Linked DNA regions of Homo sapiens. The protein of the gene in region 5 purifies or fractionates together with the protein of the main gene of each other region. This does not show direct contact. Each region holds a gene or a part of one and is shown on either strand. Other genes may lie near its edges. The genes, in order: CCNYL1, WASHC5, WASHC4, KIF2C, HORMAD2, AVL9 and MCM8.

The links.
Region 1: the proteins of HORMAD2 (region 5) and CCNYL1 purify together in Homo sapiens (affinity purification with mass spectrometry; one large-scale study listed by BioGRID and IntAct). This does not show direct contact.
Region 2: the proteins of HORMAD2 (region 5) and WASHC5 purify together in Homo sapiens (affinity purification with mass spectrometry; one large-scale study listed by BioGRID and IntAct). This does not show direct contact.
Region 3: the proteins of HORMAD2 (region 5) and WASHC4 purify together in Homo sapiens (affinity purification with mass spectrometry; one large-scale study listed by BioGRID and IntAct). This does not show direct contact.
Region 4: the proteins of HORMAD2 (region 5) and KIF2C purify together in Homo sapiens (affinity purification with mass spectrometry; one large-scale study listed by BioGRID and IntAct). This does not show direct contact.
Region 6: the proteins of HORMAD2 (region 5) and AVL9 purify together in Homo sapiens (affinity purification with mass spectrometry; one large-scale study listed by BioGRID and IntAct). This does not show direct contact.
Region 7: the proteins of HORMAD2 (region 5) and MCM8 purify together in Homo sapiens (affinity purification with mass spectrometry; one large-scale study listed by BioGRID and IntAct). This does not show direct contact.

What each region holds. Positions count from the first base shown.
Region 1 is NC_000002.12:207,742,640-207,746,139, reverse strand, and holds part of CCNYL1 (cyclin-Y-like protein 1), read right to left. Parts: intron 1-3,500. UniProt on the Homo sapiens protein: Key regulator of Wnt signaling implicated in various biological processes including male fertility, embryonic neurogenesis and cortex development. Activates the cyclin-dependent kinase CDK16, and promotes sperm maturation.
Region 2 is NC_000008.11:125,081,793-125,085,292, forward strand, and holds part of WASHC5 (WASH complex subunit 5), read right to left. Parts: intron 2,231-3,500; 5' UTR 2,107-2,230; coding exon 1,921-2,106; intron 1,467-1,920; coding exon 1,321-1,466; intron 676-1,320; coding exon 591-675; intron 1-590. UniProt on the Homo sapiens protein: Acts as a component of the WASH core complex that functions as a nucleation-promoting factor (NPF) at the surface of endosomes, where it recruits and activates the Arp2/3 complex to induce actin polymerization, playing a key role in the fission of tubules that serve as transport intermediates during endosome sorting.
Region 3 is NC_000012.12:105,110,731-105,114,230, forward strand, and holds part of WASHC4 (WASH complex subunit 4), read left to right. Parts: intron 1-394; coding exon 395-534; intron 535-3,485; coding exon 3,486-3,500. UniProt on the Homo sapiens protein: Acts as a component of the WASH core complex that functions as a nucleation-promoting factor (NPF) at the surface of endosomes, where it recruits and activates the Arp2/3 complex to induce actin polymerization, playing a key role in the fission of tubules that serve as transport intermediates during endosome sorting.
Region 4 is NC_000001.11:44,753,337-44,756,836, forward strand, and holds part of KIF2C (kinesin-like protein KIF2C), read left to right. Parts: intron 1-396; coding exon 397-497; intron 498-1,413; coding exon 1,414-1,509; intron 1,510-2,592; coding exon 2,593-2,647; intron 2,648-2,738; coding exon 2,739-2,901; intron 2,902-3,500. UniProt on the Homo sapiens protein: In complex with KIF18B, constitutes the major microtubule plus-end depolymerizing activity in mitotic cells. Regulates the turnover of microtubules at the kinetochore and functions in chromosome segregation during mitosis.
Region 5 is NC_000022.11:30,100,964-30,104,463, reverse strand, and holds part of HORMAD2 (HORMA domain-containing protein 2), read right to left. Parts: intron 1,028-3,500; coding exon 964-1,027; intron 64-963; coding exon 27-63; intron 1-26.
Region 6 is NC_000007.14:32,571,989-32,575,488, reverse strand, and holds part of AVL9 (late secretory pathway protein AVL9 homolog), read right to left. Parts: intron 2,380-3,500; coding exon of another isoform or gene 2,291-2,379; coding exon 2,071-2,290; intron 1-2,070. UniProt on the Homo sapiens protein: Functions in cell migration.
Region 7 is NC_000020.11:5,967,652-5,971,151, reverse strand, and holds part of MCM8 (DNA helicase MCM8), read right to left. Parts: intron 3,323-3,500; coding exon 3,127-3,322; intron 1-3,126. UniProt on the Homo sapiens protein: Component of the MCM8-MCM9 complex, a complex involved in the repair of double-stranded DNA breaks (DBSs) and DNA interstrand cross-links (ICLs) by homologous recombination (HR).

The DNA.
Region 1 (3,500 bases), on a different chromosome or scaffold from region 5:
TCTGGACCCCTGGTATTCCTCTAAACCTGCCAAGCAGTTTATGAGACAATTTCATGAATTATTTTACATCTACCAAACATCCTTCAAAGAACTGAGCAAAGTGAACAGCTGAGTAAAGATTTCAGAGGTAAGCTGTAATTTGCTGTTACCTCAAAGGGTTCTCTGTGGAAGAGTATGTCTATATGCTGTTTGAACTCTGTATCAAGACAAAAAGAAATCTTTTTAGGCTGGAGTGCAGTGATGCAATCTTGGCTCATTGCAACCTCTGCCCCCTGGGTTCAAGCGATTCTCCTGCCTCAGCCTCCCAAGTAGCTGAGCACCCGCCAGCACGCCTGGCTAATTTTTGTATTTTTAGTAGAGACGGGGTTTCACCATGTTGGCCAGGCTGGTCTCAAACTCCTGGCCTCAAGTGATCTGCCCACCTCAGCCTCCCAAAGTGCTGGGATTACAGGCGTGAGCCACTGTGCCAAGCCTGAAAAAAGTTCATTTTAACAGAGCTTATTTACTGTCTGAAGGTTATCAGATAGGCAGATCAGATCTGGCAGTGTTCTCCAAACTGGACTGTGTTTTCAAAAATGGATATTGAACATGACATGTTCTTAAGAGAGATTCTGTTCCCTTTCCCCCAAATTCTGCACTCTCAGTATCCTAACAGGGTTCAAATCTCAATGGGAATAATTAGACCACAGGGAAACAACATAGACAATCCCTCAACTTCCTGTTGCCTTTACGGGTAAGCTGGTGATGTGCTGATGCTCACTGATACCACTTGCCCTCCTGTGTCAGTGTGAGAGTTCTTTTCTTCCCACTAAAGCCAACTCCATCAGTGCAGTTGATCCCCTCCCACTTGTGCAGAACACTGTCCCCGCAACTGCGTCTTTTTGAAGGCTTTCTCCTTCTCTGCCAGAGATTTTCCCCAACGTGTTTCCTTTGTTCCCATCCCCCTCCCCACAACTCCCCGGATGTGTCCTCTCATTTGCTCAAAGCATCATGTCCTGGTGTCAGCTTCTCATCTCCCATCTCTCCTTAACCCACTCCTGTTTGTCCCTTGCTGCTGTCACTCTCCTGAGACTCCTCTTGCCAAGGTCCCCAGAGTCTTCACACTTACAAGCCAGAGCTCTTCATCCCACTGCTCCACTCCCCAAGTCTTCCCTAATATTGTACAGGGCATTTCCATTCACCTAGTTGCTGAGACCAAATACCTACATTCAAGTTATCCCACACCAGACTGTGCACAATTCCTGCTATGTCCACCTTCATTGGTAGGCTGCTCGCTTTTGATTCTGAGCTGCCATTTGTCACTGCTCACCTGTATCACCCTCGTTGCTTCTTAACTCTCTTCTCTGCCTCTATTCTGCCAATTATGGCCTACTCTCTTCAAGCCATCAGCATAACTTCTTAAGAGCACTTCACTCCCCTGCTCAAAATCTACCTAAAGTACCCATCAAACTGGAATAAAAACTTCTTCCTGGCCAGGCGCAGTGGCTCACACTTGTAATCCCAGTACTTCGGGATGCCGAAGTAGGCGGATCACCTGAGGTCGGGAGTTCAAGACTAGCCTGACCAACATGGCGAAGCCCGGTCTCTACTTAAAAAAAAAAAAAAAAAATTAGGCGTGGTGACGGGCACTGGTAAGCCCAGGTACTCGGGAGGCTGAGGCAGGGAGAATTGCTTGAACCTGGGAGGTGGAGGTTGCAGTGAGCCAAGATTGAGCCACTGCACTACAGCCTGGGTGACATAGCAAGACTCCGCATCTCAAAAACAAAACAAAACAAAACAAAAAAAACCTTCCTGTGGCCTGCAAGCCAAAAGGCCCTATGTGACCTCAACCTCCTCCACTCTTTCCAACTCACTCCAACCACACGGGACACCTTGCTGTTTGTTCCTTGAACACACACACACACACACACAAAATGTTCCTGTCTAGTCTTGGCACTTGTCTGGCTGCCTGTAATGCCAGCACTCTTTACCTTCTTGCTTTGATCAGGTCACTGCTCAAATGTCACCTCTAGAGAGGTTCTTCCTGATCATTCTATCTAAAATAGTGAGCCCCTCCTGTCACTCTGTATCCCTTTATGCTGCTTCATCTTCTTGCTACTTACCACTACCTGAAAAAATGTCTTCCTCACTAGAACATAAGCTCATAAAGGCAAGAACTTTGTTCAATCTGCCTCTCCTCTACTCTAGCACTTGGTAGCTCACGTCTGTAATCCCAACACTCTGGCAGGATCACCTGAGGTCAGTTCTGAGACCAGCCTGGGCAACATAGCTAGACTCTAGTTCTACTAAAAAATTAAAACAAAACAAAACAAAAACAAAAACAAAAACAAAAAACAAGAATAGTGGCACAGAGTAGGCACCCAGTGAATATTTACAGAATCAGAAACTTCTTGGCAGCATTTAACACTGGGACCATAGCCTCTCTTATCTTGATCTCTGTTCTTTTATTACCTTCTCCTGGGTTTCCTCCTTCCACTCCATCTGGGAGCTTGTCCCTCAAAAATGCTAACAGTCTTTAGAGATCTATCTTCTATCCACTTTCTTTTCTTTTTTTAGAGATGGGGGTCTTGCTATGTTGCCCAAGCTGGACTCAAACTACTGCACTCAAGTGATCCTCCCACCTCAGCCTCCCCAGCAACAGGGACTACAGGTGTGCACTACCATGCCTAGCTTCTCCACTTTCATTCTGCAACCTTTCTCTGTATTTGAACAGCTACTATAACTCTTCATTCCTTACCTCTAAGCTCAGATTCATGCTCCAGTCCGGTACATTCAAATGATTATTGGACACTGTCACTGCTACCTCACAGGCACATAGAGCTTAAACCATCTAAAATGAACTCCCCTCTTCCTGTACAGCTTCCTCTCCTGTATCACCTGTCTCTCTACATCTGGAAGCACCACTCCTGCTTCTCTACAGTATGTGCTAAGTGTTCCAAATGGCTTACAGCTCCATGAAAAGGCCTAAGTCTGATCCAGTACCCACTGAGGGGCTTCTATTCAAGTGCACAGAAGCCTTCTCTCCTAAATTCCAATTGGATGCTAAAGGAGTAGGTACTGACCTAAGTATTCTTTCCCTCCAGGCCATGCAGTTGACCTTCCTCTATAGGTTTGCTGTGGGGAGGAGTAAAACAATCCTAACCACTTGAATAGGATTTATTATTCAATGATAAAATCTTACCATAGGAATTCTGTATGGAGGACATAAAGTTAAGGACACAGCTATAGCTTAGTAAGCTAATCAGCAAAGCCTTTGTCCAAGTATTGCTGGTACCACATTGCTGGGCAACATCACGAGCAGGCACAAGAGGTAGGCAGAGATGATTAAAACCCATCATCCAAGGAACAAAGAATTTAGGGCAATAGTTCTCAATCACCACACATATCGGAAATACCTGGGGAATAGAGCCTGGGACTTGGCTTAGACCTACACTGGAATCAGTATCTGGCTCTGAACCACATGGTTTTGTTACCACTCCCCATCACCCCCAGCCCTGCCA
Region 2 (3,500 bases), on a different chromosome or scaffold from region 5:
ACTAGATTATACATTCTTAGGGAGTAAAGTCGGTAATCATGAAAAATATTGCTTTGCTCACACTTCTTCAAAAAGTTTTAGATTTCAAGGAAAAGGTAGGTTTCCTCCAAGGAGCTCTTACCTTCTTGCCGAATGGGCCTTGAAAAGTTTATGTAAAACAGATTTTAATTCATAGTGATAATTTTTCAGTTGACCTATTTTGGCTATGTTGCTTGGGACACCAAAATAGCAACCCAATATTGTGTATACCTCTTCATCATAAAATCATTCACTTATTCAATCAGCATTTCTTAAATGGTTAGTATGTACTAGGTATCAGGACAGATGGCTGGGATGCAAAAAGTAAAGAAGACAGAATTCTTACACCGAGGAGGCTCATAACTTCCACATAACTTTTAACTGTTTTAAATTCTGTTCAAAGTCTATGTTCTAAACTCAGATATGGACCTGCCAGTTAGAAGATAATTAAAAGCTCATTTCGCTTCTCTTTAAAGAATGGTATTTCGTATATATTTGTGACTTAAAAGAAAAAAAAGTGATACTATGTTTGATATTCTTGAATTTCATTTTAAATAATCATTATTACTTACTAGAAGTTGTTTTCCATCTTCATTGAGAAGCACAGTTTCTAAGGTTTGCTGAATATAAACCCCTTCATTGAGATCATCTAGATATCTAGAAATAAAACCACAGTGCAAGTTATTAATTTATAATAGAAACTTTAACATCTTTAAAGAAGGAAAGATTTTTAAAAGATAAGGCAGGATGCCAGGCATTCTGGCCTTCCACTAGTTCATGGTCCTTCATGCTCTTAAGAATACAGTCTTATAAACTGATTTAGGGCCACAGTTTGATATTTATCGCTGTTCCAAGTAAAAGAAATATTCCCTAGTCCTGATTTGTGAATTACAAGTATCTAGGAGTAAAGGCAGAAGAACATGGAATATCTAGTCTAAAAGTTAATGAGTAATGAATTCTTAAGAAGTGTATTAAGAGACAGAAAGTTAATGATAAAGATAAGTTCTTTTTCCCACTTTTCACATATAATACACTAGGATATGATAATAAATAACAGGATTGGAAACTATATGACTTAGTTAAACTAAGTTTATTACAACACCTCATAAGAGCAGGACATTATAGTAAAACTTCAAAATTCTTAAGATGACCAGTGCCACAGGTAGGAAAAGACAACTATATACAGTATAAACTAAATTAGGAAATTTTGTAGTAACTCAGAGAGATTTACACGTTGCTATGTGTCCTTTTCCCTCTCCACTATTTACTACCAGAATAAGCTATTCCTAAATAGATCAATACCTGTTTAAGTCTACAATATATTTATGTACACTTTGAAATGCTAAATAAAATCTGGTCACAATTTCTATGTTGTTTTCACGAAATTCTTCATCTAAATCCTGTAGCTCTGGCTTAGCATCCAGTTTGCTTTCCCATAATTCTGGACCCTGAGAAAAAAAAACACATGTGAAATGTCAATAAAAGCATACTTGTTGGTGACAATTTCTAAATAGTCTTTTAAAAATTTGTTCTTATGTTATTAGACATCCCAAACTTAAAGCAGAGCAACAGAAAGTAGTGAAGATAATAGAAGCCTAGATATAAAATCCCTTTGAGAGAAATGAATTTGAATTGGACCCAAGATTAGCATGCTTTTAAGTATGGGGCCCTTCAATGTGAAATATCAAAGTTATCTTTTAAAAATACAATTATATTGTGTTAGGGCTTTGACATAATACTTTCAACTTATTTTCAAGTTAGTAGCTAATATTAAGTTTAGTCGAAAAGCTCTTCTCTTTAGCTTTTTCCATAATTCCTTAACCTTACAGAGTTTCATGGTTCCCAGAGAAAACACGCTTTTGTAGAAAAGACAACAATAAAAATGCTATAGAGGAAGATTACCTTAAAATAGCTGAAATCAAATATGATATCTCCATATTTCTGTTGATCAGCTCTGTCTTTTAACCTGAACACAGCAGGAATAAACTCAGAGAGTCTCAAAAGTTCAGCAATGATGGCATTACCACAGGAAACAATCCTTAGGATTGCTTGGCCACAGAGGTTGTTCTCGGCTAGAAAGTCCAACATTGTGAGGCGGACCGACTACTCTGTGCCTGGACACTGGGGATGATTAACTGGCCTCAGAGCTGGTGTCTGTATATTATTAGATGAAACCAGGTGTGCAGAGAGATTGGCTCCTCCATTAAAGAACCTGTATCCCCAAAAAAAGTGTGAAAATCTCAATTTGTTTAAGGAAGCACATGTGTACACATAAGAAACACATTTTTCTCCCAAACTCACTAAAAAAATTTTAAGAAATAATGAGTTCCTTTATAGGGGAAAGGGTGTTTATCTGTCACTCTTCATATTTTCCATGTGGAGGGACTTTGCTAGATTAACACTCTTGGCCTCTTCTTCAACATGTTAGTCACTTCTCTTGAGAAAAAGATATGATACAGCTCATCTCTGTGCTAGGGAGAAGGAACCACTGGGCATGTGTGGTTCCAATGTACCCTGATTATACAAGCTATCTCCTACTATTTGATATATTAGCAAATAATTTCAAACGCTATAAAGAGAGCTCAGAGACAAATCCCTGTACATCATTTTGAGGCATTTGTCCAATTATTTCCCAGAAATGGAACTGCAAGCTTAAGGTAAGAACATGTCCAAGATTCCTTTTAAAATTACAGATGCTAGGTTCTGCAAAATTCTGTGAAGATGATTTATAAATACTAAATCAAACTGGTCCAAAAGTCTCATAAAATTCAGCACTTAGGTATCTAGCACTGTTAGCAGAATCCATTACTTGCTTCTCTTGTATTCCAATGCACTCTCTGAGGATGGTTAGATCACTTAGCATACTGAATATTATCGTTGCTTACAGCTCATTCTGAAAGTTCTTGAAGGCAAGGATTGATCTTTACCCAACCACTCCTTGCTGAATACCTCTTTGCCAGGCTGGATATGAAGATGTTTAAACATCTCACCTTCTAGTCCAGTGGTTCTCAAGCCTGGCTGCTTAAGGGAATCACCTAGCATCTTAGAGTTTCTGGTAAGTAGGTTAGAGGTAGTCCTAAGCATCTCTGTTTTTAAGAATCTCCCCGGATGATTCTGATGTGAAGCCAGGATCATTAAAAGAGTAGAGAATGACTGGTCTTATAGAAAACTGCAGCAGGCAAACAGGAAATTAACAATATTTATCTTTGTGCCCTTTGTGCTGAACTCATTCCTTGGCACTGACAAGTATAAGGAGTGCATAAATAATACTAGGGTTACAAGAGGTGATGTCTGTCCTCTCTAGCTGCCTGCTATACTGCTGGAGATGAGCCCTGAAGAAAAAAAATCAGAGAGATGAAGTGCTTCAGTGTGTCTTTACAATAAAGAAATAAGAAGTGTAACATACATTTAATTGTCAGTATGGAGCATTTATTAGGTGTTCTGTTGGGAAAGGTATTCTTATACTGGGTGATCTTTAGTAA
Region 3 (3,500 bases), on a different chromosome or scaffold from region 5:
TTCACCTTCAGATCATGAATATTTGTTTTTGCAAAAGAGTTGTTCATGACTAAAAGATAGAATCAGGACATTGAATTGTTTAAGGCACTTTTCAGATTGGTTCAAAGCCCTCTATTATGGGGGTAGATGGGCTAGTGGCTTTTTCATAATATGTTAGGGTTTTAAGGTAGTAACTTTATATATGGTAACATCTACTGCTTTTAAAATTATTTCGTGTATAGAGAAGATTGAAAGCTGAATTGTTGTTTAACTTTGGAACTTTATTTTCAGGAAGTCCAGACATTCCAGAGTAATAATTAACAGTGCTTTGCGTGACTTTTGAGGTTATTTGAAGTAAATGTCCTGCAATTCATTACTTGCACTTATCACATACTGTTTTAAAATTTAAACTTAGAAATTCATGCCGAAGTCCAACTTAAGAATTATGGGAAATTTCTTGAGGAGTATACCTCTCAACTGAGAAGAATTGAGGACGCTCTGGATGACTCAATTGGAGATGTTTGGGATTTCAATCTTGATCCTATAGCATTAAAGGTTTGATTTGATTTTTTAAAAATATATGTATATATTTTCTGGACATACTATATCCTGAAAACATAATTTTTTAAAATGGAAAAAGTATTTTTATTTGAAATCTAAGAACAAAATGAAAGTTGGAGAAAATTGTTAATTTCCTTTTCTCTAAGCCATGCAGATGTTTTTTAAATGTGTGTGTTTTCTGTTTAAGAATGACAAACACACAGCCTTTAGTGTCAAAGAATGACACAAACTCCAAGTCTTTGAGCTTGCCTTTGATTTTCATTATTAAGAAAATGAGGGCTGGATAGAATATTCAGGCTTTGTTTTTTCTTGATTGAGACTATTTTACATAGAGTGAAATGCAGATACTCTTAATTTTGCCAAACACTTGTAACTCATATCCCAATTAAGATAGAGAATATTTTCACCATTTCTGAAAAGTTCTCTCATGCTATATAGATGTTAATGTGTGAGTAATTTTTTAATGTATAAAATACATTACTCTTTCCATTTTGAAATATTTCTTTTATCTTTAAAATTAGTTTGTTACCACTTGAAAAATAATTTACATTTTATTGAGCACTTGTGTATTACACACTGTCCTAAGTCACACACTGACTTGTTTTTATAACAGCTTTCTTGAGATATAATTCATATATCATACAATTCACTCATTTAAATTGTATAATTCAGTTGTTTTTAGCATATTCACTGAGTTGTACAACCATCACAACAGTCAATGTTAGAACGTTCTCAGCCCCCAAAAAAGAAACCATGTACCGTGTGATAATCAACCCCCAGTTCATGCCATGGCATACCTGCCCTAGGCAACCACCAGTCAATCTACTTTTTATCTCTATGTGTTTGTCTCCTCTGTACACTTCATATAAATGAAATCATACGATATGTGCTCCTTTGTTGCTGGCTTCTTTAACTTATGTTTTCAAGGCTCATCTATGTTGTCACATGTTTTTAGTACTTTCTTTTTTTGCTGTTGCTGAATAATATTCCATTGTAAGGAATGGATAACCACATTTTATTTATCCATTCATCAGTTGATAGACATTGGATTTTTCTACTATTTGGCTGCTATGAGCATTTGGGCACATGATTTTGTGTAGACATATATAAGTATATTGTATATAAAATGTGTGTACATTGTGTGTATATTTTATACATATGTATATATGGGAGTGGAAATCCTGGGTTATGTGGTAACTATGTTTAACTTTTTGAGGAACTGCCAGAATGTTTTCCAATATGGCTATACCATTTTACATTACTACCAGCACTGCATGAGGGTTCCAGTTTCTCTACATCCTTGCCAGCCTTTATTGTCTTGATTATATTCTTCCTAGTGAATGTGAAAGCTCATTGTGGCTTTGATTTGCATTTCTGATGGCTAATAATGTTGAGCATCTTTTCATGTGCTTATGGCCATGTGTCTGTTTTCTTTGGAGAAATGTCTGTTCACATCCTTTGCCCATTTTTAAATTGGGTTATCTTTTTAGTATTGCATTATAGGACAAGTATTGACTTTTAATTCCCACCACAATCCTATAAAGTAGATACAATGTCATCTCCATTTGTAAATGAGAAAACTAAGGCATAGAAAAGTTAAGTAACTTAGTCAAGTAAGTGACACATTTAGTTAAATAATGAATATCAGGCAGCTTGACTCCAGAGCCTGTGCCCTTATCCAATACCCTGAACTGCCTCACAAATACTTTATATATTTGTAAACTGAAATTACTTTCCTTTGACTTCTTTTCTTGCAGGCTGGATAGACTTAGTCTTACTTTAAAAATCATCCCCCCCCAAATTTGTAATTGTCTCTTTTTGTTCCTCAACACTTCTGTGAGAATCATTGTATGTAAGTTATAGGAACTCTACTAGGAAACTGTCATTCTCAACCTGTACTATCTCTGAGGGTAATAAGTTTCATATATCTGTCACTTGGCATTAAGTAATACATGTTGATTTTTTAAACAGATGCTGTTGGGCTTTCTCGCCATTAAGTAATACTTGTTGATTTTTTTAAGACTTGCTGTTGGGCTTTAAGGGCCTCTTCTAGATAGGATTATAAAATCTGTTTTTTTTCTCAACTCTCAGATTTTATAAAAGGGTGAAATCATCTCTTAGTTTTTATCTTCCCCTACAGAAGCTTTCTAATCTTTACAATCTTATTATATGACAGACTCCATCTCCGCAGTTGCTCTCTTCGGAACCTCTGTTTAAGTTCTATTATTGGGCAGTTATTTTATTGTTTTTACTATACAAGGTTCTTAGTATTTTGGGAAAAACCACAAACTCAGATAAAACCTCTGTAAACAAAAATTACAACCTAATGAGAAAGGGTATATAATAACTTACTTGCATAAATAGTTAGTTAGTATGTAACCAGAAGGGAGATCTGAGATTTCACTTGATAAATAGATCACATATAGTCAATGATCAGGAAGAGGTGGAAATTGAACGGGCTTTAGGAGTGAACTCCACATACTATTTTAAGTGTTTCTGAGCATGGATTTATACAAGAAAAGATGTATTTTCTGTCTTGTTTCATTCTTAATTTATTTTGACCCTTTAGCTACAATATCTTATTAAATTTGTGGCTGCATAGAAAATTCAAAAATGATGAAAGGTTTTTCCCCATGATCATAACTAATGGAGTTTAATAATGTTACTATTACCTTATTACCTTGCATTTTCTTATACTGCACTCATAATCAGCCACCTTATGCTCCATAGGACAAGTAGAGTCGTGATTGTGTCATGTTGGGCCATTTCTTTCCTTACGTGTTGTCTAATGAGATTGTTTTGGATGAAGTAGTTGATATGGTGCTAATGTTGAGTACAGGATCTAACACAAGTTTAAGTCGAATAAAGCTAGCCTCAATTTGTGTTTTTAAAATTTCAGTTATTTTTCAAATTAAAAGAAATGTTCTTTTCCTTTGTTTCTGTAGCTTTTGCCTTATGAA
Region 4 (3,500 bases), on a different chromosome or scaffold from region 5:
GCACCTGAGTTCAAGCCCTGTTTGTCACGTGGGGGCATGTTTTCCTCTGGCCATGGAATCAGTCTTTCATTATCAAGACAAAACAAGAACTGTTTCACTTCTGTGGTTGTTGAGAAAGTAGCCAAGATGCATAGGAAGAGCTTGGGTTAGAACTGGAGTGCAGTTATCACTATTTGACTTCATATTGGCCAGGCCACTACTTTGTGGACTTGTCCATCCCGAGAGTCACATCTATTACTTCTTTTTGCATATAGTGATTTAAGAGTAAGGATCTAGAGAAGGCCTCTCCCTGGGAAAGGCCCAGTACTCAGTAAATAGCCAGAGAAGAGTAGGCTGGCTTAAACTGGTAACAGAGTGGGCTTCCTTTTTTTTTCTTTTTTTTTTATGTTTTCATAGTTCGGAGGAAATCATGTCTTGTGAAGGAAGTGGAAAAAATGAAGAACAAGCGAGAAGAGAAGAAGGCCCAGAACTCTGAAATGAGAATGAAGAGAGCTCAGGTACCTTTCTTGGGAGACTAGGGTAAGGGTTTTTGGACAGGTGTCCTTAACCGAAACTCTACGGGCAACAGAGATACAGTTGGGCCCCAGCATTTCTGAGGCTCCAGTTCTTGAGGCCCCAATTCTTTTTTTTTTTTTTTTTTTTTTTTTTTGCTCTGTTGCCCTGGCTGGAGTGCAGTGGTGTGATCTCGGCTCACTGCAACCTCCACCTCTGGGTTCAAGTGATTCTTGGGCCTCAGCCTCCCAAGTAGCTGGGATTACAGGCATGTGCCGCTAATTTTTTGTATTTTTAGTAGAGACAGAGTTTCGCTATTTTGCCCAGGCTGGTCTGGAATGCTTGGCCTTCCAAAGTGCTGGGATTGTAGGCATGAGCTGTTGCGCCTGGCCTCTGACGCTCCAATTCTGATATCCAGGAAATTTAACTGGTTTATCAGGATTCAGAGAACAAATAATTCAGAAATGTTTCTGAAGGCCCTCAGATGAGGAACATTTCATGCTGACTGTCTAGTAAGCAAGCCCATCACATGCTCACATGGCGTGATGGCCAGAGGGGCTGCAGGGCACAATTGGTCTGCTCTCTCCTATCCTCCCCCAAGTTGTACGTATTTGGAGGGCAGGGACTGCAGTACAGTCCCCTTATTTGGGTTCATTGCTTCTGGGAAGCCCGATCTGCTGTGCCTCCTAAAATGTGGAACTGGCCCTAGTTCCAGTTCCTAGCGTGCTTTGGCGTATGCTTAGGCCCCTCTGCCAATCTCTTCCCCAGTGCTTTGTACCTGGCTTCTCAACCCAGAGCCAGGGCAGGGACTTTGACAACTATGAAGGGTGGTGAGCAAAGAGCTGTTGCTGCTGCCGCATAGGGGTCTGAGAGCACTTATATCTTAACAGTCTGCCCTTTTTCACTCTCGTCTCAAACCAGGAGTATGACAGTAGTTTTCCAAACTGGGAATTTGCCCGAATGATTAAAGAATTTCGGGCTACTTTGGAATGTCATCCACTTACTATGACTGATCCTGTAAGTACATCCAAAGAACTTCTCTTTCTTAAGTGTACAATTGAGAGACAGAAAACTTCTCTTTACAGGAATGAGGGCATGCAGGAATCTTTACTCACCTTTGAGGGTTTTATTATTATTTTTTTTTGAGATGGGGTCTCACTCTGTCACCCAGGCTGGAGTGCAGTGGTACGATCTTGGATCACTGCAACCTCCACTTCCCTGGGCTTGAGTGATCCTCCCCACCTCATCCTCCCAGGTAGCTGGGACCATAGATGCATTCCACCGCACCCTACTGATTTTTTGTATTTTTGGTAGAGACAGGGTTTCACCATGTTGCCCAGGCCAATCTGGAACTTCTGGGTTCAAGGAATCCGCCTACCTTGACTTCCCAAAGTGCTGGGATTACAGGTGTAAGCTACTGTGCCTGGCTGAGGTTATTTTATTTTACTTTTTTTTGAGACAGAGTCTCGCTCTGTCGCCCAGGCTGGAGTGCAATGGCATGGTCTTGGCTCACTGCAGCCTCCACCTCCCAGGTTTAAGTGATTCTCCTGCCTCAGCCTCCCCAGTAGCTGGGATTACAGGCATGTGCCACCACGCCTAGGTAATTTTTGTATTTTTAGTAGAGATGGGGTTTTACCATGTTGGTCAGGCTGGTGTCGAACTCCTGACCTCGTGATCTGCCCACCTCAGCCTCCCAAAGTGCTGGGATTACAGGCGTGAGCCACCATGCCCAGCCGAGGTTATTTTTTAATATCCTTTGGTGGGCTGAAGCTAGTGAGGCCCACATGGGGAGGGGTCTGATCTTTATAAACTGGGTTCCACCCCCATACCATAGGTTGGCTAGATTCCTGCATTAGTAAAAATCATGAAAGTAGTGCTGAAACTCTTGTAGGCAGCAGAGTGAGAAAAATGGGAACAAAATCCAGTGCTCCCTTCTTGTGCTCTGGAGTATCTAATGGAGGATGCAGGGGTCCTAGTGTTAGATCTTGGCCTCTGACTGGGCCAGACATGGGATTGGAAGGGGTGGGAGTTCTGGACAAGCTCGCTTTTGAAATTGCTCTGACCCTTTGCTGTTGGTTGCCTCCTCTCATCCGCTTGCAGATCGAAGAGCACAGAATATGTGTCTGTGTTAGGAAACGCCCACTGAATAAGCAAGGTAAGTCCTGTTCAGTCAGGAAGAGGCTTCAGACTGACTAATGGGCCTTCTGTTTCCAGGGAGCACCCCCTGAAATACTCTCCTTCTGCAGAATTGGCCAAGAAAGAAATTGATGTGATTTCCATTCCTAGCAAGTGTCTCCTCTTGGTACATGAACCCAAGTTGAAAGTGGACTTAACAAAGTATCTGGAGAACCAAGCATTCTGCTTTGACTTTGCATTTGATGAAACAGCTTCGAATGAAGTTGTCTACAGGTTAGTCCCTTGCATCCATTTTTCCCTCCTTGTGCCCTTCCATCCCCTTTTTTTGTGGGACATCGTGGTAACACTACTCACAGACGTGCTGAATTCTGAGGCTCTTCCTCGCTTCTTGTGTTTTCTTTGGGTCACACCCTTTGGCAGCTTAGTGGCCCATCCTTGAGTGGATACTGAATGAGGTATCACCCGTTACGTGCTGAGGCAGGGCTGGCCAGGCTCCAGGGGTTCTTCTGTGCCTTATGCAGCCACACCATTGCCCACTGGGGTTCACAGATTTGGGGAACTCCAGATCTGCTCTATCTGCTTTTTTTTTTTTTTTTTTTTTTTTTGAGACGGAGTTTTGCTCTTGTTGCCCAGACTGGAATGCAGGGGCACAATCTCGGCTCACTGCAACCTCCGCCTCCCAGGTTCCAGCGATTCTCTTGCCTCAGCCTCCCACATAGCTGGGATTACAGGCGCCTGCCATCACACCTGGCTAATTTTGTATTTTTAGTAGAAACAGGGTTTCGCCCTGTTGGTCAGGCTGGTCTCAAACTCCTGACCTCAGGTGATCCGCTCGCCTTGGCCTCCCAAAGTGCTGGGATTAAAGGTGTGAG
Region 5 (3,500 bases):
CAGTGTAAGTGTAAAAACATTCTTACGTATCTCTTTTCCAAAGCATCAAAACAACCTTGAATCCTGTCAAGAAATAAATGTTTGATGTCAATTGGACCATATGCAAATCCAAAAAAATTCCAAGTACAGAATTCATTTGCACTTTTTGCTTTGATGTACATTAAGTTGATAACCATCTTACCTTTCCCATTTAATCATTTTTTTAAACTTCCAGCAACTTTTAATATGATGATAGACCTTTATAAGTAATAGTGAGCTATTTTGTGGTAGTGAACCAAATTTTTTTGGATCCCATGTTTAGTACACTGACACACATATGATGAATTATCAATTTTTAAAATCTGTGTGGGTACATAATAGGTGTATATATTTAATATTTTATCACAGTTTTTATTTTTATACAAGTCAATTTTCTTTCAAAAAGCTAAATCAGTGTCTTAAAATTATATTGAATAATTCTTACAAATTCCTAGAAAATTATTTTTAAAAAGAAAGAGGGAAAGTAGGTCAGGGCAGTGGCTCACACCTGTAGTCCCAGCACTTTGGGGGGCCAAGGTGGTTGGATCATGAGGTCAAGAGATCGAGACCATCCTGGCCAAGATGGTGAAACCCTGTCTCTACTAAAAATACAAAAATTAGCTGAGCGTGGTGGCATGCACCTGTAGTCCCAGCTACCCGGGAGGCTGAGGCGGAGAATCACTTGAACCTGGGAGGCAGAGGTTGCAGTGAGCCGAGATTGCGCCACTGCACTCCAGCATGGGGGACAGAGCGAGACTCCATCTCAAAAAAAAAAAAAAAAAAAAAAAAAAAAAAATCAAAAACAGAAAAAGAAAAAGAAAGAGGGAAAGTAGAAAAGAAGAAATGGTTTTTTAAAAAATGATCTTACTAAATAAAGTCTTATGGGTAATTTCAGCCATGATAAAAATAATGTTGTTCAACTTTTATAGAATTTCTATTACTTACCATCTGATAATATGCAGTGACCCGGGACATTTTTTATCTTCTCGGAGGATTTTTAAACTGAGGTCTACAAAAACAGAAACACAGTCTATTTTTATCTACTAAATGACTGCTGTACTGAAATTGTCCATGCTAAATAGGGTATTTCCTTTAACTATTTTATTTATGTAATTTATTTAGTTTTATAGCTTATAAAAACATTTTGGATCTCTAAACATCTACTTTAAAAATAAATCCTATGTTAAGAAGTAGCTTGGTCTCAATTTCGATTACAGTAAGGATTTTCCCCCTTCTACAATGTAGCACAACTGAGTTGGCTCCAAAATCAATTTGTGTCCTTTCTTTGCCGCTGTAGAATTCTAAGTAATTATGAGGTAGTATTGAGACTATCTCCATTGACCAACTTAAAATATACACCTAAATATCAGTCATTTCCCTGTTATTTCTCTCCCTCTCATTGAAAAGGAAGGAATAAAAAATTTCACACGGATTATTCTCAAATATTTATTTTATCCGAAATCTACCTTTTTATACTTAAGAAGAATAGGAATATCATATTAAGAGTTTGGGTTTAGGCCGGGTGTGGTGGCTCACACCTGTAATCCCAGCACTTTGGGAGGCTGAGGCAGAAGGATTGCTTGAGCCTAGGACGTCGAAACCAGCCTGGGCAACCTAGTGAAACCTCACCTCTAAAAAAAATAATTAAAAAAATTATCTGGGCATAGTGGCACATGCCTATACTCCCAACTACTCAGGAAGCTGAGGCAGGAGGATCACTTGAGGCTGGAAGGTCGAAGCTGTAATCCTGTAATGATCATGCCGCCACACTCCAGCCCGGACAATGAAATGAGACTCCCTCTCAAAATAAATAAATAGAGTTTTGGTTTAAAGTAGTCCAAGATCAATCACTGATTTATGTGTGATTTTGCATAAGCAACTTCACCTTTTCGTATTGTTTTCCTATACTAAAATTGATGTTACCTGTATCTCTATTGAGGGATATGAAAATTATCCCATGTTGATATAACATTCAGAAATTACAAGAGAGTGACACAGGAGTATTAAGCATTTTTATGATGTATATTACTTTAAGAACAAACATTGAAAGGGAGACATAAAACTTCCACAATAACTGTCACAAAAAATAAAGCTATAGGGAATGGTATCATTGCCGTTGCCTAGGGTAGTGACTGGCACACAATATGTGCTTATTATCAAAAATATGTCTTTCTCAATTCTATGTTCTAGACAAGAGGGAAAATTACAAATATATGTTAGATATAAACACATTCACTATTACAAGTTTGTATCTCATAGACCAAAAGATGTCATAATACAAATGAGGTTGTCATGATTGCAAATATCATGTTTATGTGCTTATAGCACACATGCATTTTATTGATGCTCTTACATTACTTAAGATAATTTTTTTTTTTGAGACAGAGTCTCACTGTATCACTCAAGCTGGAATTCAGTGGTGCAATCACAGCTCACTGTAGCCTTAACCCCCCAGGCTCAGATGATCCTCCCACCTCAGCCTCCAGAGTAGCTGGAATTACAGGCACTCACCACCATGGCCAGCTAATTTTTTGTATTTTTTATAGAGACAGGGTTTCACCGTGTTGTTCAGGCTGGTCTTGGATTCCTAGGCTCAAGCAGTCTGCCCACCTTGCCTTTCAAAGTGTTATGGTTACACTTTGGATTACAAGCCTGAGCCACCATGCCCAACCAAGAGAATTAGACTGAAATGAGGCCAAGGTATATCATTAAATACAGATGTAAGAAATTTAAAATTAGATTTTGAAAAATAACATCTTACAAGGCAACTTGTAGCTCTCTATGTTTATTTTCCAAATGACAGTTCCTATTTTAGTGACAAGTCAACAAGATTCACAATCCAGCTTTTTTTTTTTTTAATACTTTAAGTTCTGGAATACATGTGCAGAAAGTGCAGGTTTGTTCATGTGCCATGGTGGTTTGTTGCAACCATCAACCCATCATCTAGGTTTTAAGCCCCACATGCATTAGGTATTTGTCCTAATGCTATTCCTTCCCTTGCCCCCCACCCCCCTACAGGCTCCAGTGTGTGATGTTCCCCTTCCTGTTTCCATGTGTTCTCATTGTTCAACTCCCACTTATGAGTGAGAACATACATAACACAGGTTTTCTGTTCCTGTGTTAGTTTGCTGAGAATGATGGTTTCCAGCATCATCCATGTTCCTACAAAGGACATGAACTAATTATTTTTCATGGGTACATAGTTTTCTATGATGTATATGTGCCACATTTTCTTTATCCAGTCTATCATTGATGGGCATTTGGGTTGGTTCCAAGTCTTTGCTATTGTAAATAGTGCTGCAATAAACATATGTGTGCATGTGTCTTTATAATAGAATGATTTATAATACTTTGGATATATACCCAGTAATGGGATTACTTGGTCAAATGGTATTTCTGGTTCTATATCCTTGAGGAATTGCCACACTGTCTTCCACAATGGTTGAACTAATTTACACTCCCACCAACAGTGTAAAAGCATT
Region 6 (3,500 bases), on a different chromosome or scaffold from region 5:
CTTTCAGTCATGATGTTCTCTCCTTTGGACTTTATTTGGTGTTTCATTCTTGAATTTCCTAGCATTTCACTGTCAAAAACACTTAAAAAAGGCCAGGTGCAGTGGCTCATGCCTGTAATCCCAGCACTTTGGGAGGTCGAGGAGGGCGGATCACTGGAGGTCAGGAGTTCGAGACCAGCCTGGCCGACATGGCAAAACCCTGTCTCTGCCAGAAATACAAAAATTAGCCAGGCGTGGTGGCGGGTACCTGTAGTCCCAGCTACTCGGGAGGCTGAGGTAAGAGAATCACTTGAAACCAGGAGATGGAGGTTGCAGTGAGCCAACATCATGCCACAGCACTCCAGACTGGGCAACAAGAGCGAGACTCTGTCTCAAAAAACAAAACAAAACAAAACAAAAAAAGTCTTAAAAGAATATACTGAAAACTGATAAAGTTTTCAGCTTTATCAATACCATGGGAAAGCATCCATATGTGTTTCCTCCGCTTGGAAGATTAGAAATGGTTTGGAGAACTGATACAAATGGCTATTACTTCATATATTAATTGCATGTTGTTTACTTTGAAGGTGAAATACAAAGTACCTTTTGTTGCTAGGAAAGGAAATGAATGAGATACACAGTTCCATACACAGCATAAAGAAGTTGTTCTAAGAACACTTCCTCAAGCAGTTCATTGGGCTGAATTTCCTCTTTTGACCTTGTTACTTGTAAGAGTATGGGCCTAAGCCAAACTGTTTGGGATCAGATCCCACCTAAGCCTCTTATGAACCTCTGTGAGCTTCATTTTCTCTTCTGTAAAAGGCAATGACAAGGTCCCTACCTTCAGGATTGCTGTAAGGATGAAATGAATTACTAGATGTAAAGTGCTCAGAACACTGGTCCCTGCATATATTTAATGTTCAAAAAAAAAAGTGAGCTACTATTATTCAGTGCTTACAGCCTCCTGGGCAAATATTTTTAAAAAAGCAAATTAATTAATTTGCTTAAAAGCAAATTAATTAAGCTACATGGCAGTGGAGACTGAAGTTTTCTTTCTAGATTACCAAATGATTTGGGGTTAAAGGATTTAATTTTGGTGTCTCAGCTGCTACATTGTTAGTGGTGGCAAACATTTAAAAATATCTCATTAACAAACGAGGGCTTGTTCCTCAGCTGTCTTTTACAAATGAAAAACTCTCCCGAAACCTACTTTAAAACTCCTATGTGCACTGTAAACAACTAACCTGGGAGCATGTGGTGGTGGTGTTGATTAAAAAAATCTACTGATACAACAATGAATGTATCTAATGCCACTGTGGAACTGTACATTTAAAAATGGTAAAGATGGTAAATTTTATGCTATGTGTATTTCATCACAATTAAAAAAATAATGGTTAGTTAACTGAAACAAAAACACAAGCTCAACACATTTTTAACAACTCTAATAAATATCTGCCAAATGTCCAAGGTGAAAAGCTCACTGCAGAGCTCCATTTTCACTATTTATATATTTCTTTCCCAAGGAGAATGAGATAGTTTTAATGCAGGAGTAACTCCATGTTTACCTGCTCCATTTTAACCATTTAATACGAATAATAATATTTCTTAGAATGGGTTATAAATTTGAAGATTTAATCATTTACAACACGATTTTCAATGATTTCTATTTTTTATATTCTTTCTCCCTTTATACATCTTAAAAAACATGTGGCAGTATTCACAAACAGCTGCCAAATACTGATGAATATGAAGCAGTCATGTAAAAGTGATGATATATGTTCATGTTATGTTGGTATGTGTTGTTTCTATTATAAAGTAATAGTTTCAGAAAACATGTATAAAGGGATCCATTTTTGTAAAAGGACCACCAAAAGTACCATAAAACCAAAATCCAAAATACATGCATAGGAAAAGATTTGCAAGGCTATAAAGTACTAAAGACGTTAAAAGTGGCTATCTTTGTATGAGGGAATAACTGGTAATTTTTCTATAAGGAATATGTATTTATTGTGCAATCCAAAATCTCATAAATGTTACAAAATGAAAAATTATAATAAAACAGGTAGCTGTAGGCTCCGTGTGGTTTCTTACCTAATTGCAGTGTGGCAGCCAGCAGGGCATGAATGTAGACCGCAAACTGGGCCCGGATCCATTCGTCACCTCCCTCCCAGCCCGTGCCATCTAGGAAGACGTCATCCCGATTCTCAGTCACGTGCCTCACTAGGTAGTCTGCGAACCTTAGGTCTGCAGTGGTTGGGTTAAGCAGCTTCCTGAGTTCTGGATCATGGATCTGGATCAGAGCTTCTTCTACCTAGAGGGTATCCAGGTACAAGTCAGAGTCTGGGCATTCACGCAGACATCCATGCCACACTTTACAGAGTAACTACGGGGAAGGTGGAGCTGGAAATAAAAAATATGAATAATGGCATTCTCAAAAGGTGAGTCTAAGAAAGAGGTTTGTACACTGAAGTTTTCTTTCTATTTATAAAATGCTCATTTTCTGTTTTTAGAAAATACACACATAAATATAGTATTTTAAATTACAAAATTACTCACCTAGATTGCAAATATTTGGGAAAATATAGAAATACATGTAAAAATCACCTTTATTTCACTAGCAGAAATGAACACATTTAACAAGTATAATTCCTTAAATACTTTTTCTTTTGCGTGCAGATACTTTAGAATATTCTTTTTTTTTTTTTTTTGAGACGGAGTCTTGCTCTGTCGCCCAGGCTGGAGTGCCATGGCACAATCTTGGCTCCCTGCAAGCTCTGCCTCCTGGGTTCATGCCATTCTCCTGCCTCAGCCTCCTGAGTAGCTGGGACTACAGGCGCCCACCACCACGCCCGGCTAATTTTTTGTATTTTTAGTAGAGATGGGATTTCACCATGTTAGCCAGGATGGTCTCGATGTCTTGACCTTGTGACCTGCCCACCTCGGCCTCCCAAAGTGCTGGGATTACAGGCGTGAGCCACCATGCCCGGCCAGATACTTTAGAATATCTTATTATGTAATATTTGATATACTAAAAAATACATGTAACTTACAGGTTAGTTTTGAAGTATAATAATAAAAGAAATTCCTACGAACCCACCAACCAACTACAGAACTAGAATGTAACCAATAATGATGAAGCAGCTTTATGGTCCTCCCATCTGTATCCTCCTGTCTTGGAAAATGTATATACTTTTTCTTCTTCAAATTTGGGATTATAATAAATACATCTTTGAATCCTGGACTTTCATTATATTATAACCATTCACCCAAGAAACATGTTTTCATACTTTCTGTCAGAAACTACAAAAACCTCAGTGTGGCTGAATTTTTTTTTTTTCTTTTTTTTTTGAGACAGAATTTCACTCTATCGCCCAAGCTGGAGTGCAGTGGCACGATCTCGGCTCCCTGCAACCTCTGCCACCCGGGTTCAAGCGATTCTCCTGCCTCAGCCTCCCGCGTAGCTGGGATTACAGGCACCTGCCACCATGTCCAGCTAATTTTTGTATTTTTAGTAGAGATGG
Region 7 (3,500 bases), on a different chromosome or scaffold from region 5:
TCTGTTTAAATGGGTGGGGGGCCTTGGAATTTTATTTTTGGTTTACAGGTTCATGCCTGTAATCCCAGCAAGCACTCTGGGAGGCCAAGGTGGAAGAACTGCTTCAGCCCAAAAGTTCAAAACTAGCCTGTGCAACAAAGTGAGACCCCGATATCTATAAAAAAAAAAATTAAAAATTAGCCAGCCATGGTGGCATACACCTTTAGTCCTAGCTACTTGTGAGGCTGAGGTGGGAGAATAACTTAAGGCCAGGAGTTTGAAGCTACAGTGAGCTCTGATTGTGCCACGGCAATCCAGCCTGGGCAACACAGCAAGACCCTGTCTCTAAAAAAAATTAAGAGAAAGAATATAAAACAGTACATTTACATTTGTCAATTTTATAAACAAGGAACAAACAAAAATAGGGTGGGAGAGAAAATCAGGAGTAAAACATGAGTCTTTATTCCCTTTTAATATATGTAAACACAGAAGGAGGTGGTGGTGTGCTCATATCCCCTTGGCACTCACTGTTCAGTATGTTCCGGCTTCCTACTGGCATCTGCACCTGTCTGCCAAAGACCTTTCTATGGCCACACAAGCATCATTGGCAGGCAGGATGGGCAGGCCAGAAGTGCTGAGGTGTTTAATACTCCTGGGGGCAGTCCCAAATGTAGGCCCTTAAATGGAAAAATACTGAAGCTGGCTTTCCACAGTGGAGTTTTCCACTGGCCCAGGAGGATTATGTCCCAGATGCTAGTGGGTCACCTGTTCGTTAAGGCACCTACACTGGCTGCCATCATTTCCCTACCAGTAACTCCAGAATCACCTCCCAAGTAAACTATGTTGATCCAAATCATTGCTTCTGAAGGAACCTAAACTAAAACATAAACTTCTACTGTCACCTAGGCTGGGTTGACAAACTTTTTCTTAAAGGGCCAGAAAGTATTTTCAGCTTCACAGGCTATACTGTCTCAGTCACAACTATTCAACTTGTAGTGTGCAAGCAACTGTGAACAGTAATGTAAGTAAACTGGGTGGGGCTGTGTTTTAATAAAATTTGACTTACAAAAACAGGCAGCCTGCCTAGTTTGCCAATCTCTGCTAGACTGATAATAGAGGACCATGAAAAATTCTAGTTTTGATGCTGAAATCACAAACATGGAGGGGGAAAAAGCAAACTGTGGGAAGAAAACTAAAGTTTTCCATACTTACTCTTCTATAAGTATGGGAGAAGAGGGACCACTAAAAATGTTCAGTTTTAATTTACAACTGTTAAGAGGAACCAAAGATGTTTGGATTGTCGACCAGGTTGCTTCCTTGGCCACCTGCTCAAAGGACTCACTCCAAGACCACCCCAGCAACGCTAAGTTAGAGCAGCCTCTCTTCCAGGGTGGGTCTGAATGGCTTTTATTCAGAGGGAAGTAGGATTTAAGGACAAAAAACCCCTGTGGAGCACTATTCTTTACTCAGTCAGCTAATTAACATATTAAAGCCAGAAAGAAAAAGCATCAAATCCTCTTACAGACCTGAGCCTACTGAACAGAAAAGCATGACAAAATCACTTTTTTTTTTTTTTTTTGTGAGACAGAGTCTTGCTCTGTTGCTCAGGCTGGAGTGCAGTGGCGCGATTTCAGATCACTGCAACCTCCGCCTCCCAGGTTCAAGAGATTCTCCTGTCTCAGCCACCCAGGAAGCTAGGATTACAGGCACCTGCCATCATGCCCAGCTAATTTTTCTATTTTTAGTAGAGACAGGGTTTCACCATATTGGTCCGGTTGGTCTCGAACTCCTGACCTCAGGTGATCCACCCGCCTCGGCCTCCCAAAGTGCTGGGATTACGGGCTTGAGCCACTGTGCCTGGCCAAGATCACTTTTTATAATACAATGCATTTCAAAACGTTCTCAGTTCTTTACCTCTCTTAGATATATCTATTATTCAGTCTCTCTCATTTTCTCCTATTTCTTCAAAATTACCCCACAGTTGTCAAAAAATTATCAAAAGTAACAGTATGTTGCAGTAGTTATGTTAAGTACATTATAAAATCCCACTTAATCTTTAGAACAACCTTCTGAGGTAAGTCTTATTATTTCCATTTTAAGGTGATACAAATAAAGGGGAAATTAAGTAATATGTCCCAGATCACACTGGAAGTAAATGCCCAAAGCAGGAGTCTAACTTAGGTTTGTCTCCAAAGAAAAGCTCTTAACCACTAAAGCAAAAAATGCCTATACTTTGCTGCTTCTCCACGGCATGGCAATAGCATGGAAATAAAATTATCAAATACTTTTTGAATATATGTTAATTCGATTTGAATCTCTATGAGCAACACCCTACACAGAACTAATTGAAATGGCTTTGGAATTCACTGTTCCCTCACTCTTCCGTTGAGTGACAAACTTCTTGTATAAGATAGTAAATATTCTGTATTGTTTAAACTAGAGATCAGCAAATTTTTTCTATAAAAGGATAAAGCAAAAATATGTGAGCCATATATATGTTCTCTGTCACAACTATTCAACTCTGCCACTGTAGCACAAAAGCAGCACACTTATGTAAATGAATGAGTGTGGCTATGTTCCAATAGAACTTTATTTATGGACACTGAAATCAGAATTTTTTTTTTTTTAAAGACAGAGTTTCACTCTTGTTGCCCAGGCTGGAGTGCAATGGCACGATCTTGGCTCACTGCAATCTCCATCTCCCGGGTTCAAGTGATTCTTCACTTCAGCCTCCCGAGTAGCTAGGATTACAGGCGCCCGCCACCAAGCCCGGCCAATTTTTGTATTTTTAGTAGAGACAGGGTTTCACCATGTTGGCCAGGCTGGTCTCGAACTCCCGACCTCAAGTGATCCGCCTGCCTCGGCCTCCCAAAGTGCTGGGATTACAGGCGTGAGCCACCATATCCAGTTGAAATCTGAATTTCATATAAGTTCATGTGTTGTGAAATATTCTTTTAATTTATTTCAACCATTAAAAAATATAAAAACCATTCTTAGTTCATAGGCCATACTCAAGGGGATGGAGTACTGTATTTGGTACATGGACTGTAGTTTGCCGACCATTTTGACTAGTTTTTTGTTACCTGTAGCCAAGAGAACCCCCAACATGCATCTATGTAATAAAATTTCAAATGACAGCATACATACTTGACAATGAGTTTAAACAGGTTTTCTTCAGCTTGAATCTCTTGGATGGCATAAAGGTCTTTAAGTGAGAACTCCATCAACATTCCATGCTTACACCCATCCTCAGAACTCTTTGTTTTCTGTCCTTTGCTATTACTAATAGAATTTGCTTCAATATACAAAAGGAACATACACTTGTCATTCTTATTTCGAGAACCTGTAAATTAAAAGTGTTAAATACAATAGTTGGTATTTTCATTTTCCCTACAATGACTCAACTAGAATATAAAACAAAGTCATAGGGAGCTACAAATACATGTTTTTTTAAAAGGGAATGTTTCATCTTATGTAAGCAACAAGAAATTCCTCAAATTATTTGAGGTTCAGGAGCATCT